Homo sapiens: one gene and its partner. The protein of the gene in region 2 purifies or fractionates together with the protein of the main gene of each other region. This does not show direct contact. Each region holds a gene or a part of one and is shown on either strand. Other genes may lie near its edges.

Region 1 (6,844 bases), on a different chromosome or scaffold from region 2:
CATCTTCAAGACGTACTTACAGGTGCCACCCGTCCGCTCTGCGGCTGGCCATGGCCTCCCAGGGTGGTGTGGGGCGTCGGGAAAGAGCCTGAGGTGGGGCTGAGGGCCCTCATGACTCGGATCCAACCTGCCTCGCAGGGAGTCGAGCTCTCCGGCCTCTCAGCCGCCATCAGCCACTTCCTGAACTGCTTCCTGAGCTCCTACCCAAACCCCGTGGCCCACCTGCCCGCCGACGAGCTGGTCTCCAAGAAGCGGAATAAGAGGAGGAAAAACCGGCCCCCGGGGGCTGCAGATAACACAGCCTGGGCTGTCATGACCCCCCAGGAGCTCTGGAAGAACATCTGCCAGGAGGCCAAGAACTACTTTGACTTCGACCTCGAGTGGTGCGTGCGGGGCAGGGGCGGTGGGGTGGGTGGGATTGGGCAGATGAGGCGGCCACCACCTGCTCCCAGATGGCGTCTAAGGCCTGTGGTCATAGGCCAGGGAGTCAGAGAGAAGAGGGAGCAGCTGTGGAGATCACTGGGTGCTGGAGGGTGAGGGCAGCCGGGAGGCTCCCGGGGGCCGGGTGGGGCAGTGTTGGGGGCCCGGGCTGGACAGCGTTGGGGAGCTGGGTGGGGCGGTGTTGGGGGGGCCCGGCGGTGCTTGGGCTGCTCAGGCCCCCTGCTCCCTCCTCAGTGAGACCGTGGACCAGGCTGTGGAGACCTACGGCCTGCAGAAGATAACGCTCCTGCGGGAGATCTCGCTGAAAACAGGGATCCAGGTGGGCATGGCTCACAGCATCCCCGCTGTGTCCCCGCTGTGTCCCCGCTGCGTCCCTGCTGCAGGCTCCCACTCCTGGCCAGGGCCACAGGGGAAGTGGCTTTTTCACGGTAGCCGTCTGTGCGCAAGCGTTGGTGGGTTGGGAGGTGCCAACCCGCTGAACCTGGGCCTGAGGCTTCCTGTGGTGGGGGGGCTGCCCCCCAGGTCCTGCTGAAGGAGTACAGCTTCGACAGTCGCCACAAGCCCGCGTTCACCGAGGAGGACGTGCTCAACATCTTCCCCGTGGTCAAGCACGTCAACCCCAAGGCCTCGGATGCCTTCCATTTCTTCCAGAGCGGGCAGGCCAAAGTGCAGCAGGGTGTGTGGCCAGGTGGGGCTGGGTGGAGGTGGGGGTTCCCCATGGCCCGTCCTGACCTTGCCACCCCTGGGGGTGCCCTGCAGGCTTCCTGAAGGAGGGCTGTGAGCTCATCAATGAGGCCCTGAACCTGTTTAACAACGTCTACGGAGCCATGCACGTGGAGACCTGCGCCTGCCTGCGCCTCCTCGCCCGCCTCCACTACATCATGGGCGACTACGCAGAGGTACCCTCTGGGCTGTGGCAGCAAAGGCCTGGCCTCGTGTTGGGGGATGGGGAGTGAGGGGGCCCCTGACGGAGGAGTGGGTGGAGTCCAGGGAGACCCCAGGAAGTCGCTGGTTCTGCCCAGGCCACCCCTGGCTCCACCCCTCTGTAACTGTGTCCCGAGCGGGAGAGCTCAGGAGCACCCTGTGCTGCGGTGAGGTCAGTTCTGGGAGGCGATGGCAGGGGACCCCCCCACAGGGCGTCAGCAAGGACGCCTCCTGAGACTCCGTGAGTGGGCAGGAAGCATGCCACCGAGCTCCCACGTCCTCTGTGCCCAGTGCAGGCTGTGGGGTTCTGGGTGCCCTGCCTGGCCGGGGCTGGTGGAGGCTGTGGTGGGGTTCTGGGTGCCCTGCCTGGCCAGGGCTGTTTCAGGGTTAGCATGTCTTAGGATCCCTACTCCCTGCAAAGGGACTGTTTTTTCTTCTGTTTATAAATGGGTGGGTTGTTTGTTTGTTTGTTTGTTTCTGAGACAGGGTCTTGCTTTGTCACCCAGGCTGGAGTGTAGTGGCGTGATATCGACTCCCTGCAGCCTCAACCTCCTGGGCTCAAGCGATTCTCCCACCTCAGCCTCCCGAGTAGCTGGGATTACAGGCGTGAGCCAGCACACCCAGCTAATTTTTGTATTTTTAGTAGAGATGGGGTTTCATCATGTTGGCCAGGATGGTCTCAAACTCCTGACCTCAAGGGACCCACCCCTGCTCAGGCTTTTTTTTTTTTTTTGTAACATTTTTAGTAGTTTTAGGTTTGTATTTGGGTGTTTGTGGAGATTTTGTTGGGTGTAAGACATGGGTGTGTGGAGCTCTCTGTGGAGCGTGACCTGCCCTTCAAGGTGTGGCAGCAGCTGCTGCTGATCCCCCTCCCCCCTGCTGCACTGTGCTGGGCGCAGCCGGAGGGGACAGGAGCCTGCAGAGCGGCACCGTGGGCTGCTGGGCCGGGGCCAGGCGGGCTCTGGGTGCAGTGGGGGTTCCCACGCCGCGGCAACCACCACTGTCTCTCCCCAGGCCCTGAGTAACCAGCAGAAGGCGGTGCTGATGAGCGAGCGGGTGATGGGCACCGAGCACCCCAACACCATCCAGGAATACGTGAGTCGCGAGTGCCGCCCGCGCCGGGGGATGCGAGGGGCTGGGTCCGCGGCCACCCTGACCTGTCTCCGCCCCGCCCGCAGATGCACCTGGCCCTGTACTGCTTCGCCAGCAGCCAGCTGTCCACCGCCCTGAGCCTGCTGTACCGCGCCCGCTACCTCATGCTGCTGGTGTTCGGGGAAGACCACCCCGAGATGGCGCTGCTGGACGTGAGTGCTGGGGCGGGGGGGCGGCAGGGACCCAGCTCCATCCCAGGGGACCGGGAGCTGACCAGGGCCCCCCACCGCCTGCCCCCAGAACAACATCGGGCTGGTGCTGCACGGGGTGATGGAGTACGACCTGTCGCTGCGCTTCCTGGAGAACGCGCTGGCCGTCAGCACCAAGTACCACGGGCCCAAGGCCCTCAAGGTGGCCCTCAGGTGAGGGGCCGCCCGTCCAAACGCCAAGGCCGGCGGAGGCCTGCGGGGCAGCCGGCGGGGGCGGGGAAGAGACCCAGTGCTCCTGTCTTCCTCCACCCGAGAAAATTTCTCTCGACCTCCCCCTCTTCCCTGAGCCCTGGACTTGCTGTTCCCCTCGGTGGCTTCCAGGGAGGGATCTACGGGAGACCCCGGGCCCCCGAGTCAGGCCCCCACACCCAGCCCACTTATGCCCTTCCCTCGCCCCGCGCCGCGCCTCCCGGCAGCCACCACCTTGTCGCCCGAGTCTACGAGAGCAAAGCTGAGTTCCGGTCGGCCCTGCAGCACGAGAAGGAGGGTTACACCATCTACAAGACGCAGGTGCGCGGCGGGGGCGTGGCGGGGGCGGGGGCGGGGCGGGGGCGTGGCGGGGCGGGGGCGGGGCCGCGGGGGCACGGGGGGGCCTGATCCCTTCCCGCCTCCCCGCAGCTGGGCGAGGACCATGAGAAGACCAAGGAAAGCTCCGAGTACCTCAAGTGCCTGACCCAGCAGGCCGTGGCCCTGCAGCGCACCATGAACGAGATCTACCGCAACGGCTCCAGCGCCAACATCCCGCCCCTCAAGGTGAGTCCGGGGCGGAGCGGCCCCTCCGGCCCGGCGAGCGCGGGAGCCCCGCTCACCGCTGGTTTCCCCGCCCCGCAGTTCACGGCCCCCAGCATGGCCAGCGTCTTGGAGCAGCTGAACGTCATTAACGGCATCCTCTTCATTCCTCTCAGGTGAGGCCTCCGCCCCACTCGAGTGTCTCCCGGTTGGGGGTTTTTTGTGAGTCGGAGTCTCGCCCTGTCACCCGGGCTGGAGTGCGGCGGCGCCATCCCGGCTCACTGCAGCCTCCGCCTCCCGGGTTCAGCGATTCTCCTGCCTCAGCCTCCCCAGTAGCTGGGATTACAGGTGTCCGCCACCTCGCCCGGCTCATTTTTGTGTTTGTAGTAGAGATGGGGTTTCACCACGTTGACCAGGCTGGTCTCGAACTCTTAACCTTGCGATCCGCCCGCCTCGGCCTCTCAGAGTGCTGGGATTCCAGGCGTGAGCCATCGCGCCCGGCCCGCCCCGCTTATCTTCCCCAGCATCCTCGCATTCCGCGAGTGAAGACCTTGGTGTTTCTGCTTCACACAAAGTATCTTGGCGTTTTCCCACCAGTCCCTAAGAAGCGGCTTCATTCCCTCCCCACGCTTCCCATCCTGCGGCGGGGGGGGGCTGAGGAGCAGGCCCCGGGCTCCCCGGGGTGGCCACAAGCAGTGTGGCCTCCTGTGGGGAGTGGATTTGGTCAGCAAGGCGTGGCAGCAGCCCCCCAACTCCGCTTTCCTCCCCCTGCGCTGGAGGGAGGCCACCGAGGGCAGCGAGGGGAGCCCCGAGGCCGGGTCAGGTGCGGGGTCCTTACCTTCTCCGTGTTCAGGGACCTTCCGCCTTCAGGAGGGAAGCGCTTGTTCACACACATTCCCCACTGAATAGAGCGCAGAGCCTGAGCTTATCCCACAGGAAAGCCGGGAGGCGGGTGGAGCCCCCAGGACTCCTCTGAGAGCCACCTCCATCCCCACCCTTATCCTCAGCCAAAAAGACCTGGAGAATCTGAAAGCCGAGGTGGCGCGGCGGCACCAGCTCCAGGAGGCCAGCAGAAACAGGGATAGAGCCGAGGAGCCCATGGCTACCGAGCCCGCGCCAGCGGGGGCCCCAGGAGACCTGGGCTCCCAGCCCCCGGCTGCCAAGGACCCTTCTCCGAGCGTGCAGGGATAGAGAGGGAGCCAGACGGACAGCCAGCCAGCGGCCCCGTCACCAGGGAGCCCGACTGCGGGAGAAGGGGGCGAGCCTGCGGGCGGAAGAGGAAGCAAGGCCCTCTTCCTCCACGTCTCACCCCACCCCACCCCCGTGTCCTCCTGGGAGCCTGGCCTGCCTGCCCCGCAGAAGGTGTTTTTGCGCTGGTTCAATGAATAGATGATGCAGAGGCCCCATTGGAGACACGTGAATGGCGTGTGCGGCCATCAGTTCCCGGCTGGGGGGCAGGTGTTGCTTCGGCCCCCGCCGTCCGGCCGGCGTGTGCGAGTGCGCCCCTGGCTGTGAGTGTTGACCGTTCCTCTCCCCTGTACATAGCCCGAGCCAGTCCTGAGTGGGTGACTCCTGAGTGGGTGACGCGCAGACGGGATTTCTCAGGTCATTTGTATGGTCGACATGATGGCTGCTGCTTTGGCTGCCACCACCCCCGGGCCCAGCCTGTCTGAAAGTTCAGGGTTTAGGCCGAAAAACCCGGTGGGGAGGGGTGGGGAGCCGGAGCTCTGTGGCGGGGCTGGAGGGCTGGGGTGCACTTTAGTTTGGGGCGGGACGGGAGCCGCCGTTGTGACTGGCGTGGTCTGGCTGCTGCTCCCGAACGGAGGGGTCGGGGTTGGCTTGCTGGGCCCTCAGAGCCCAGTGGGTGGCTCTGACTCGGCTCCCTACTCCCTGCACCCAGCTGGGCGCAGCCTTGGGGCCTGCGGTCTGAATGTATCCCTCCCCTCAGTTTTAACCTGAGCTGCCGAACGCACAGTGGGCCGGGGGCGAGGCTGGGGGAAGCGGGGCCCAATTACGGATCCCGGGAGTTACAGGTGCCGACGTGATGTCGCTTCTCTGGTGCCCAGCTCCCTTCCTGGTCTGAGACTAGCTCTGGGGGTGGCGGGGGCCCCCACACGCTGCTCCCGCTCCACCCTGCCCGTGCTGCTGCTCTGTGCCTGCTGTCAGAGCCCTGGTGGGGGAGGATGTGGCCACCCTGAGACCCGGAGGAGACGGGCGTCTGCCTGGGTTTGCGGAGAGCCGCTTATGGGTGTGGTCCGTCCAGACACCTTGTTTCAAGGGGGATGGGCGTGAGCGGGCAAGCAGAGCATCCCCACCGCTGAGCAAGAACTTTTTCTTGTTTTTAAACCATCACGTCCTCATTTCACATTGGAATAAAGTGAGTTTTTGAAACCTGCGGCCCCAGGCTCACCTGTGTGTTCTGTAACCCGGTCTGGGTGGATGGTGAGGGCTGACAGGAATGTGACTGGGAGAGGAATAGATACAAACGAGGTCAAGTTCGAGGTCACGCTTACATTGTCACTTGAGTGGGAGGTAAGGGGGTGGAATCACAGGCACTCAGCTGGAATTCACCGAGCTGCCAGTCCGTCACCAGGTTCGCGGGAGTGTCGTGCAGGTGAATGTCACCTGTCACCAGGTGCAGAAGAAACTGTGAAGGCCAGGTGGGGAGGGGTGCTGGGCTGTGGGGCCAGGCCCTGTGCATGCTGGACCCGTGAGGTCACTGAACACCCCCCTGGCTGGCCACCTGCCCCTGTCTCTTCACTCGAGGTAGGAAGGAGGGTGGGCAGCACTGCCCAGAGGTGAGACACTGGGGGCAGGGAGGAGGGCCTCAAGTTCGCCACCCTCGGACAGGATTCAGAGAGCCAAGACCCAGGTGGACTTGAGCGGCAGAGCCTGTCTCTAGAGGGGAAGTTGAGCTCTCAGTAGCTGCTGACCGCTGCTCGCCATCTGTCTCCAAGAGCAGGCCCTCGGCCCCACCAGGAACATACGCCTTTTGGGATGCTTGGAGAGATCTGTACGTCTTGGAAATTCTGAAAAGAAAAAAATTCCATCCCTGAGTCTGTCAGTTTTCCTGAGCCAACCGGAGAAAAGGTGCTTCTGACCTGGCGGTTTTAGGTGACACCCGGGGACAGCCACCAGCGAGTGAGTGTCCTGCTACAGAACCTCTCAGACTTCCCAGCAGCCCCAGCCCAGCAGCAGCTTCCTTTGCTCTCACCGGTGTGTCCTGAACATTCTGTCCCCTCTCCTGAGTGTTTGTTGTTGAACGTGAGCCACATGTTCATGCACCTCTCAAAACAGGGCCTCCTGTGAAGCTGAGAACAGATCGGGGTTGGTTAGGGTTGTGCCTCCTTGTCACCTGAGAGGCCCCTATTTCCTGGCTGATCCTTTAA
Region 2 (7,966 bases):
TGTGTGTTTGCAAGAATACGTGCGTGGGTGCGTGTGGGTGCGCGTGCGTATGTTGTAGGTGTCTGTGCACGTGTGTTGTGGGGGCATGTGCACACACTCACGTGTTGAGGGAGAACATAGGAAGCACCCTCCGAAGTTAAGATCCTGGGGGCTTTCCTTGCTGGTGACAACCGTGACTGCGTTCGCCTCCTTTCTGAGGATGGGGTCTTTACAGGGCAGAAGCAGGCAGTGCAGAAGGAAGAGTGAGATGTCCAAGACCCGTTCACGTTCGTGAATGGTTATTTCTAAAACAAAGAAAGTGGCTACTTTCTCACATAAATAACATGGTTATCCCAGCAGGTAGTAAAAAACCTAACAAACAAGGCCAGGCGCGGTGGCTCACGCCTGTAATCCCAGCGCTTTGGGAGGCCGAGGTGGGCGGATCACCTGAGGACAAGAGTTCCAGACCAGCCTGGCCAACATGGCGAAACCCTGTCTTTACTAAAAATACAGAAATTAGCCAGGTGTGGAGGCGGGCGCCTGTAATCCCAGCTTCTCAGGAGGCTGAGGCAGGAGAATTGCTTGAACCCAGGAGGCGGAGGTTGCAGTGAGCCGAGATGGTGCCACTGCACTCCAGCCTGGGTGACAGAGGGAGACTCCGTCTCAAAAAAAAAAAGCAAAAAACCCCAACCCGATTTCACTTATTTCATTAATTTTGAAGGTTACAGGCCTGGAAGATTTTGGTTGTCAGACATTAAGATTTGTTTTCAGAAAACTGTTTGTTTTCAGAAAACTGGTCTTTTCCTTTACAGCCTGGAACCCTTGCAAATATGTGAGATGTAGGAATTTCTGTGCTTAAATTCAGGTACCACCCAAGGGTCTGCCCTACCTCCACCCTCCAGGCCTGCCCCCACAAATCAGCCCAGTGCAGCTTCCGGTCAGGTTTGTTGATGAGCCGGATGCTGGTGCTGGCTCTGAGCATCCTTTTCAGCCTGCCACCTCTTCCCGCCTTTTCCGAGACTTCCTTAGACCTCATGATGTCTGGAATGTGACCTGGGAGATGCTGCAGCCTCCACAGGTCACTTAACCTCTCCAGGCCTCAGTTTTTTCATCCAGGCAATGGGGGAATAATGGCAGTGCAGAAGTCAGATCAGATGAGGGGATTCATGCCCTGCATCAGGCCCAGTGTCGGGCATGTGGTGGGGACGCGTAGACACGGTGAGGTGGCTGTGATTAGCGGAAGCCTGGAGGCCTGGCTTTGGTGGTAGCTCCACACTAACATGAGTGCAGCAATTTAATTGCCCAGGTTCCTTCCCCTCCCAGGCCCTCAGTCTCCTTAGCTTTGCACATGATAGGAGCAGGACTGGGAGAGCTCTCATACATATTCCCTTGCAGGTCTCAGATCTGAGGGTTTTTATGAAAAGCCAGCAGAACTGAAATGGTGTCCCTGTGGCATCCGTTCTGATGGAAATGTGCAGTTGTATTTGGAAGTTCAGAGGCCGCTGCTTTGATGCTTGGGGGGACCAGGCTGGGGAAGGGGGTTGATATCCTGAGCTGCACAGACCTCCGTCGTGGAGGACGCAGTGGCAGGGGCTGCATCCTCCTGTCCGCTTCAGAGCTGCCCCTGGCGTTGGGAGGACAGTCCTTCAGGGTGGCCAGGTTCTTAGGGACGTCTGAAGCTGCTGGCTGGGCCGGCGTGGGGTTTTTCAGGGCTTCGTCCCTGCAGATTGCGCCCTGCCTCCTGACTGACTTCTCTCTCTGCTTCTCCTCCGCAGCCTTTGCTAGGGCAAGCCTGTCTGTAAGTATCTCTCCGATCATCGCTGCTGCTTGCACTGCTTTCTTCCTGCTTGCTCATTTGGCCTCCTGCCTGTTAAAATATTGAGGATGAGAGCAGTTTTGTGATGTGAGGTCTTCCGTGGGGGAAGGAGGAGATGGGCGTAGGAGTAGGGAGGAGAGATTCCTGAATGTTTTTGGAAAAGCGTGCAGGCGGTCATGGTGGCTGCACTACTGTTGGGTGTGTTCCGACACCGCCGCACGACCGCTGGCTTCTCCCCTACCCTCTCAGGGCTGCAGGTCGTGGTGTGTAATGGCCGTGGTTTAGGGCTCGGCATAAATCCACATTTCCTTATCAGAATCAGATCTTGGTGGCGAGCTGCATCTGTGCCAGGTGCCATTAGCCTTAAAGCCCCCTCCTGCCCCAGGAGTGTCCTTTGTTTTGGAAGGAAAACTTACTCAGAGCCTAATCTGTAAACCAAACCTATGGGGAATAGTGGGAGTGTGGTGGGGCCTGAGCTCTGAGCCTCTCCCTCCCCATGAGGACCCCCCACACCCCAAAAGAGCTCCGAGTGGAGACCCTTGGGGATCCGTTTGTCCTGGGTTGGAGCCTGCTCAGCGTCATAGTCACGCCCGGGGCTGGGTGCAGCCTCCATCTCTAACCCATGTGGTCACTTCTGCTCCTCCCAGAGCTCTCTGCAGAGTTTCAGGTTCAGCCTTAGCTCTGGCAGCCACTGGGTAGCTGGGGCTGTGTTCCCACTGCTCTGGGATCCCTTCCCCACCAGGAGCAGAGGCCTTCCTGCCACAGAACTTTAATGACAGCCACATGAAGTGTCATCCCCTTGCCCCCCCAAAAACACACCCGCCCCTTTATTTCCTGTTTGCTCCTTAAGTTACCTTAACTACTTTATGCAGAAACTGGAAAGGTGTGATGAGGAATGCAGCCTGAGATGCTGAAAAGAATGACTGGCTTTGGAAATGGGAGAGGTTTGGCATGGCGCTCAGATTTTGGTGGCAAAGGGGTGAAGGGCCAGAGGATGTACCAGTGTCCTCCATGTCCACGTTCCTTAAGACCACCCTGGGAGGTCGGCAGGGCAGTCAGTCCCCCGTTTAATGGTTGAGGGGCTGAGTGACCGGCCCGTGCTTCCAGCAGGTGAGCCGCAGAGCCGGGGCCTGAAAGGCCCCTTGCTTCAGAAAGCCGGCCGCCTCCTCTCTGCGGCTTCTGGGAGTGGGCTGGGTGCCCGTTCCCTGCTGCTGTCCTGAGGCCCCTGCCCTGTGACCCGCAAGGCATGGGCAGCTGTTGGACCCTCGTGTACCCCCACAGCCACCCCCTTGCAGCTGCTTCCCACAGCCAGGCTTTGCTTACCTAAGGTGGGCCTGCCCTTAACTTCCAGCTTCTTGGGGCGCACCCTCCATCCTCAGGGCCAGTGTCTGTGATGCGCGGGGCCAGCGTGCAGTGCTTCAGGATCTGGGCTTCTCCTTGTGTGAAACTTTTTGGACTTGGAGCCTGAAGGTTTTACATCTGTGCATGTCCTGATCCTTTAGACCAGCAGTCCCCGACCTTTTTGGTACCAGGGACCCGTTTCGTGGAAGAGAATTTTCCCCACCATGGCAGGGTAGGGGATGGTTTGGGGATAAAACTGTTCTGCCTCAGATCGTCTGGCATTAGATTCTCTGAAGGGAACGCACAGCCTAGATCCCTCGTGTGTGCTCCTCCGAGTCAGGTGGTAATGTTGGCCCACCCACCACCCACCTCCTGCTGTGTGGCCCGCCTCTCAGTGGGCTATGGACTGGGTACTGGTCCACAGCCCAGGGGTTAGGGACCCCTGCGTTAGACACGTGGCCTCATGTTGCCAGGAAAGAAATCTTTCTACTGGGAGGAGCCATTCGGGGATAGTCCCCCACCCGCTAAAGCTGATCTTACCTATCTCCAAGATGAACATAATAGTGCGTTTGCTAGAATCCCTCCTGTTCAGCAAAAATACATCCGATGGACCCATCACACCTGACTCAGGTTGGAATTTCACTCTGGAGTCCCATTGTCCCGTCCATCCTGGGTGCGTGACCCCACATCTAGGATTGTAGCCACATCTGATTCTAGGAGTCCACCTGGGCTCTGTGACCAGAATTTATGATGAAAGTCAGACCAAGCCAGGCCTGCATCTTGGTTCTACTCCTCCTGGCCTCTATCCTTGGCACTCTGGGCAAGTTAAAGCAATTCTAGGACCTCAGCTTCCTCATCTGTAATATGGAGATAATAACTTCATAAAGTTGTCATAATGAGACTATAGATACAGCACTTAGCACAATATCTGGCCCCTAGGAAGTGCGTGGGGGATGACGGCTGCTGTTGTTATCAGGGAGGAACTTGGTGCCCTGGGCCTGTGGAGACTTCTGGGCTTGCTGGCATTGGGTCAGCCTTTGGATACCCTCCTGTAACCTGAGGGATTTCTTCTCTGGGGCAGCAGGAACACCCAGACTTGGGGAGGGGAAATCCCTGGGGTCTCAAGGCCATGGCCTGAAGTCTTTTTTTTTTTTTGAGATGGAATTCTGCTCTTGTTGCCCAGGCTGGAGTGCAGTGGCGCGATCTTGGCTCACTGCAACCTCCTTCTCCCGGGTTCAAGCGATTCTCCTGCCTCAACCTCCCGAGTAGCTGGGATTACAGGCGCCCGCCACCATGCCCGGCTAATGTTTGTATTTTTAGTAGAGATGGGGTTTCACCATGTTGGCCAGGCTCGTCTCAAACTCCTGACCTCAGGTGATCCACCCGCCTTGGCCTCCCAAAGTGCTGGGATTACAGATGTGAGCCACCACGCCCAGCCTAGAGTCTTCACCCCTGTGATCTTGGTTTCCCAGTAAGATGGGGACGAACAACTGTCCGGACCTGGTGCTCTGGGGTGCCTTCCTGGGGGCTGTGCCGGCTGCTTGGGATCGAGAGATCACCTGGCATTTGTGATGCAACCTTCATTTTTAAAATTTCAAATGCACACTAGAAAATCCTACTAAAGATTTTCTTTTTTTTTTTCCTTTTCCAACCTGTTTCTTCCTCTCCCCCACTCTGCTTGAAAGACGAACTGTCTGTCACATTTTCTCAAAGTTTTCTCCTTACTAACTGTGGAAGGTAAATGCCTGGGTGCATGTCCCTCTGTCCCGCACCGCGTCACGGCATCTGGGTCTGTGTGCAGACTGGCCATCGTGCAATGCGGGGCTCATCTGTCTCCATGCCGAGGTTGTTAAGTGCAACACCATTGTCGTGAGGTCCTTTCTAGTCTGTCTCTCACCCCCCACGTGTCCTGAGCTGGGGCCCCTGGGTGAAGGACGTGGACATCACCCGGTCTTGCAGGCTCTCCACTGTTATTGTTGCATCGCCATCACCTGTGGGTGCCGGAAGCTGTGGGCTGGTGGTGTTGAGGACAGGTTGGAGCCAGCAGATGCGGAGGGAAATGTCAGCCCTGCTCTGTGATCCCACAGCCCGGCTGGGGCTCTCCCTAGATATGAGGACCCAGGGCTCTCTGAAGAGAATTGCCCCCTCCCAGTGGGCACCCATCACTTCCATCATCCTTCGGCGGGCACCCATCAACCCCCGCAGGCAGCCGTCATCCCCTGGCAGGCACCTATCACCTCCTGGTGGGCACTCATCACCTCCCGGTGGGCACCCATCACCTCCTGGCGGGCACCCATCACCTCTCGGCGGGCACCCATCACCTCCCGGTGGGCACCCATCACCTGGGTTCCTGAGTCTGGCCCACGCCTGGGCGATAGCTCTGATGCTGCCCAGCCCCGTGACTTTCCTCCCTGTGGATGGCTCCAGCCTTGGACCCCCAGTTCTGTGTGGGGTGGGCATGGGCCACGGTGGCCCTGTGTGCCTGGGCTCTCTCCCACCCTCTTTAGAGCAGTCCAGGTGGAGACACTCAGGACTGGAGAGAATAGTTTTAAACATTGTGTGTTTTCTTGTTTTTTGAGGCGTAGGTGAAGCAGGTCACGGAAGGAGGCCCGCTGTGCAGTGGCTGCAGTCAGTTGTGTTCCTCGCTGATTTTGGAGCATGTTTTTTTGCGGGGGGTGGGTGGCGGGGGGGTTTGGTACTGGCCAGTGCCTTAGGGGTGGAACTCCCTGCGAGGGCCACTGTGATCAGAAGTGGGGCAGGGCTTTAACAACACCCCTCTGCCTGGCTCCCCACCTGGGCCTCCCCACCACGTCCAGCCATTCCATGTATCACCTGTGTTCTGCCTGTCAAGCTCTGTTCCCAGAATCTGGATGCAGGAGCTGGGAGTGTGGCTCTGTTTTGAGCTGAGTCGAGAGGAGGGGCCCTGTGTGTCCTTGGAGGCCCCGGGCTCATCCTCTGCCTGGCTGTGGTTTGTGGGATTTCTATGGGGTCGTGAGCATGAGGCTCCTGTAGTTACTGGTGCCCAGCGCCGCGCAGCTCACGGTCCTCCAGGAGCCACACGGCCCCCACCAGGCGGGCTCCAGGCCTGGTGCCCAGCCCCTTCTCTGAGACTCTGGGGTTATCTTGCGTCATGTTCTGAGGCCCACCTGGGCTCTCTCCCGCCTGTGAGGTTGGCAGCACCTTTCTTGGATCATGTTCTTTGTCTGGGATGGAGGGAGGGAAGAATTCTCCGTTGCATGGCTCGCGTCTTCTGCTTTAGAATTCAGCCAGCTACAAATCCTAACTCCCTCCCCACCTCTCTTTTCTCCTGAAAACAGAACATGAAAGGCTCCCGGAGCAGCGCTGACTCCTCCAGGAAACACTGAGGCAGACGTGTCGGTTCCATTCCATTTCCATTTCTGCAGCTTAGCTTGTGTCCTGCCCTCCGCCCGAGGCAAAACGTATCCTGAGGACTTCTTCCGGAGAGGGTGGGGTGGAGCAGCGGGGGAGCCTTGGCCGAAGAGAACCATGCTTGGCACCGTCTGTGTCCCCTCGGCCGCTGGACACCAGAAAGCCACGTGGGTCCCTGGCGCCCTGCCTTTAGCCGTGGGGCCCCCACCTCCACTCTCTGGGTTTCCTAGGAATGTCCAGCCTCGGAGACCTTCACAAAGCCTTGGGAGGGTGATGAGTGCTGGTCCTGACAGGAGGCCGCTGGGGACACTGTGCTGTTTTGTTTCGTTTCTGTGATCTCCCGGCACGTTTGGAGCTGGGAAGACCACACTGGTGGCAGAATCCTAAAATTAAAGGAGGCAGGCTCCTAGTTGCTGAAAGTTAAGGAATGTGTAAAACCTCCACGTGACTGTTTGGTGCATCTTGACCTGGGAAGACGCCTCATGGGAACGAACTTGGACAGGTGTTGGGTTGAGGCCTCTTCTGCAGGAAGTCCCTGAGCTGAGACGCAAGTTGGCTGGGTGGTCCGCACCCTGGCTCTCCTGCAGGTCCACACACCTTCCAGGCCTGTGGCCTGCCTCCAAAGATGTGCAAGGGCAGGCTGGCTGCACGGGGAGAGGGAAGTATTTTGCCGAAATATGAGAACTGGGGCCTCCTGCTCCCAGGGAGCTCCAGGGCCCCTCTCTCCTCCCACCTGGACTTGGGGGGAACTGAGAAACACTTTCCTGGAGCTGCTGGCTTTTGCACTTTTTTGATGGCAGAAGTGTGACCTGAGAGTCCCACCTTCTCTTCAGGAACGTAGATGTTGGGGTGTCTTGCCCTGGGGGGCTTGGAACCTCTGAAGGTGGGGAGCGGAACACCTGGCATCCTTCCCCAGCACTTGCATTACCGTCCCTGCTCTTCCCAGGTGGGGACAGTGGCCCAAGCAAGGCCTCACTCGCAGCCACTTCTTCAAGAGCTGCCTGCACACTGTCTTGGAGCATCTGCCTTGTGCCTGGCACTCTGCCGGTGCCTTGGGAAGGTCGGAAGAGTGGACTTTGTCCTGGCCTTCCCTTCATGGCGTCTATGACACTTTTGTGGTGATGGAAAGCATGGGACCTGTCGTCTCAGCCTGTTGGTTTCTCCTCATTGCCTCAAACCCTGGGGTAGGTGGGACGGGGGGTCTCGTGCCCAGATGAAACCATTTGGAAACTCGGCAGCAGAGTTTGTCCAAATGACCCTTTTCAGGATGTCTCAAAGCTTGTGCCAAAGGTCACTTTTCTTTCCTGCCTTCTGCTGTGAGCCCTGAGATCCTCCTCCCAGCTCAAGGGACAGGTCCTGGGTGAGGGTGGGAGATTTAGACACCTGAAACTGGGCGTGGAGAGAAGAGCCGTTGCTGTTTGTTTTTTGGGAAGAGCTTTT

The links.
Region 1: the proteins of PFKFB3 (region 2) and CLUH purify together in Homo sapiens (affinity purification with mass spectrometry; 2 studies listed by BioGRID and IntAct, with this or other methods). This does not show direct contact.

The regions. Positions count from the first base shown.
Region 1 is NC_000017.11:2,688,396-2,695,239, reverse strand, and holds the end of CLUH (clustered mitochondria protein homolog), read left to right. Parts: coding exon 1-22; intron 23-138; coding exon 139-383; intron 384-675; coding exon 676-760; intron 761-963; coding exon 964-1,117; intron 1,118-1,200; coding exon 1,201-1,340; intron 1,341-2,320; exon of another isoform or gene 2,321-2,379; coding exon 2,380-2,460; intron 2,461-2,543; coding exon 2,544-2,669; intron 2,670-2,757; coding exon 2,758-2,879; intron 2,880-3,142; coding exon 3,143-3,236; intron 3,237-3,344; coding exon 3,345-3,479; intron 3,480-3,557; coding exon 3,558-3,631; intron 3,632-4,462; coding exon 4,463-4,646; 3' UTR 4,647-5,853; downstream 5,854-6,844. UniProt on the Homo sapiens protein: mRNA-binding protein involved in proper cytoplasmic distribution of mitochondria.
Region 2 is NC_000010.11:6,226,442-6,234,407, forward strand, and holds part of PFKFB3 (6-phosphofructo-2-kinase/fructose-2,6-bisphosphatase 3), read left to right. Parts: intron 1-1,754; coding exon of another isoform or gene 1,755-1,777; intron 1,778-6,453; coding exon 6,454-6,501; 3' UTR 6,502-7,966. UniProt on the Homo sapiens protein: Catalyzes both the synthesis and degradation of fructose 2,6-bisphosphate.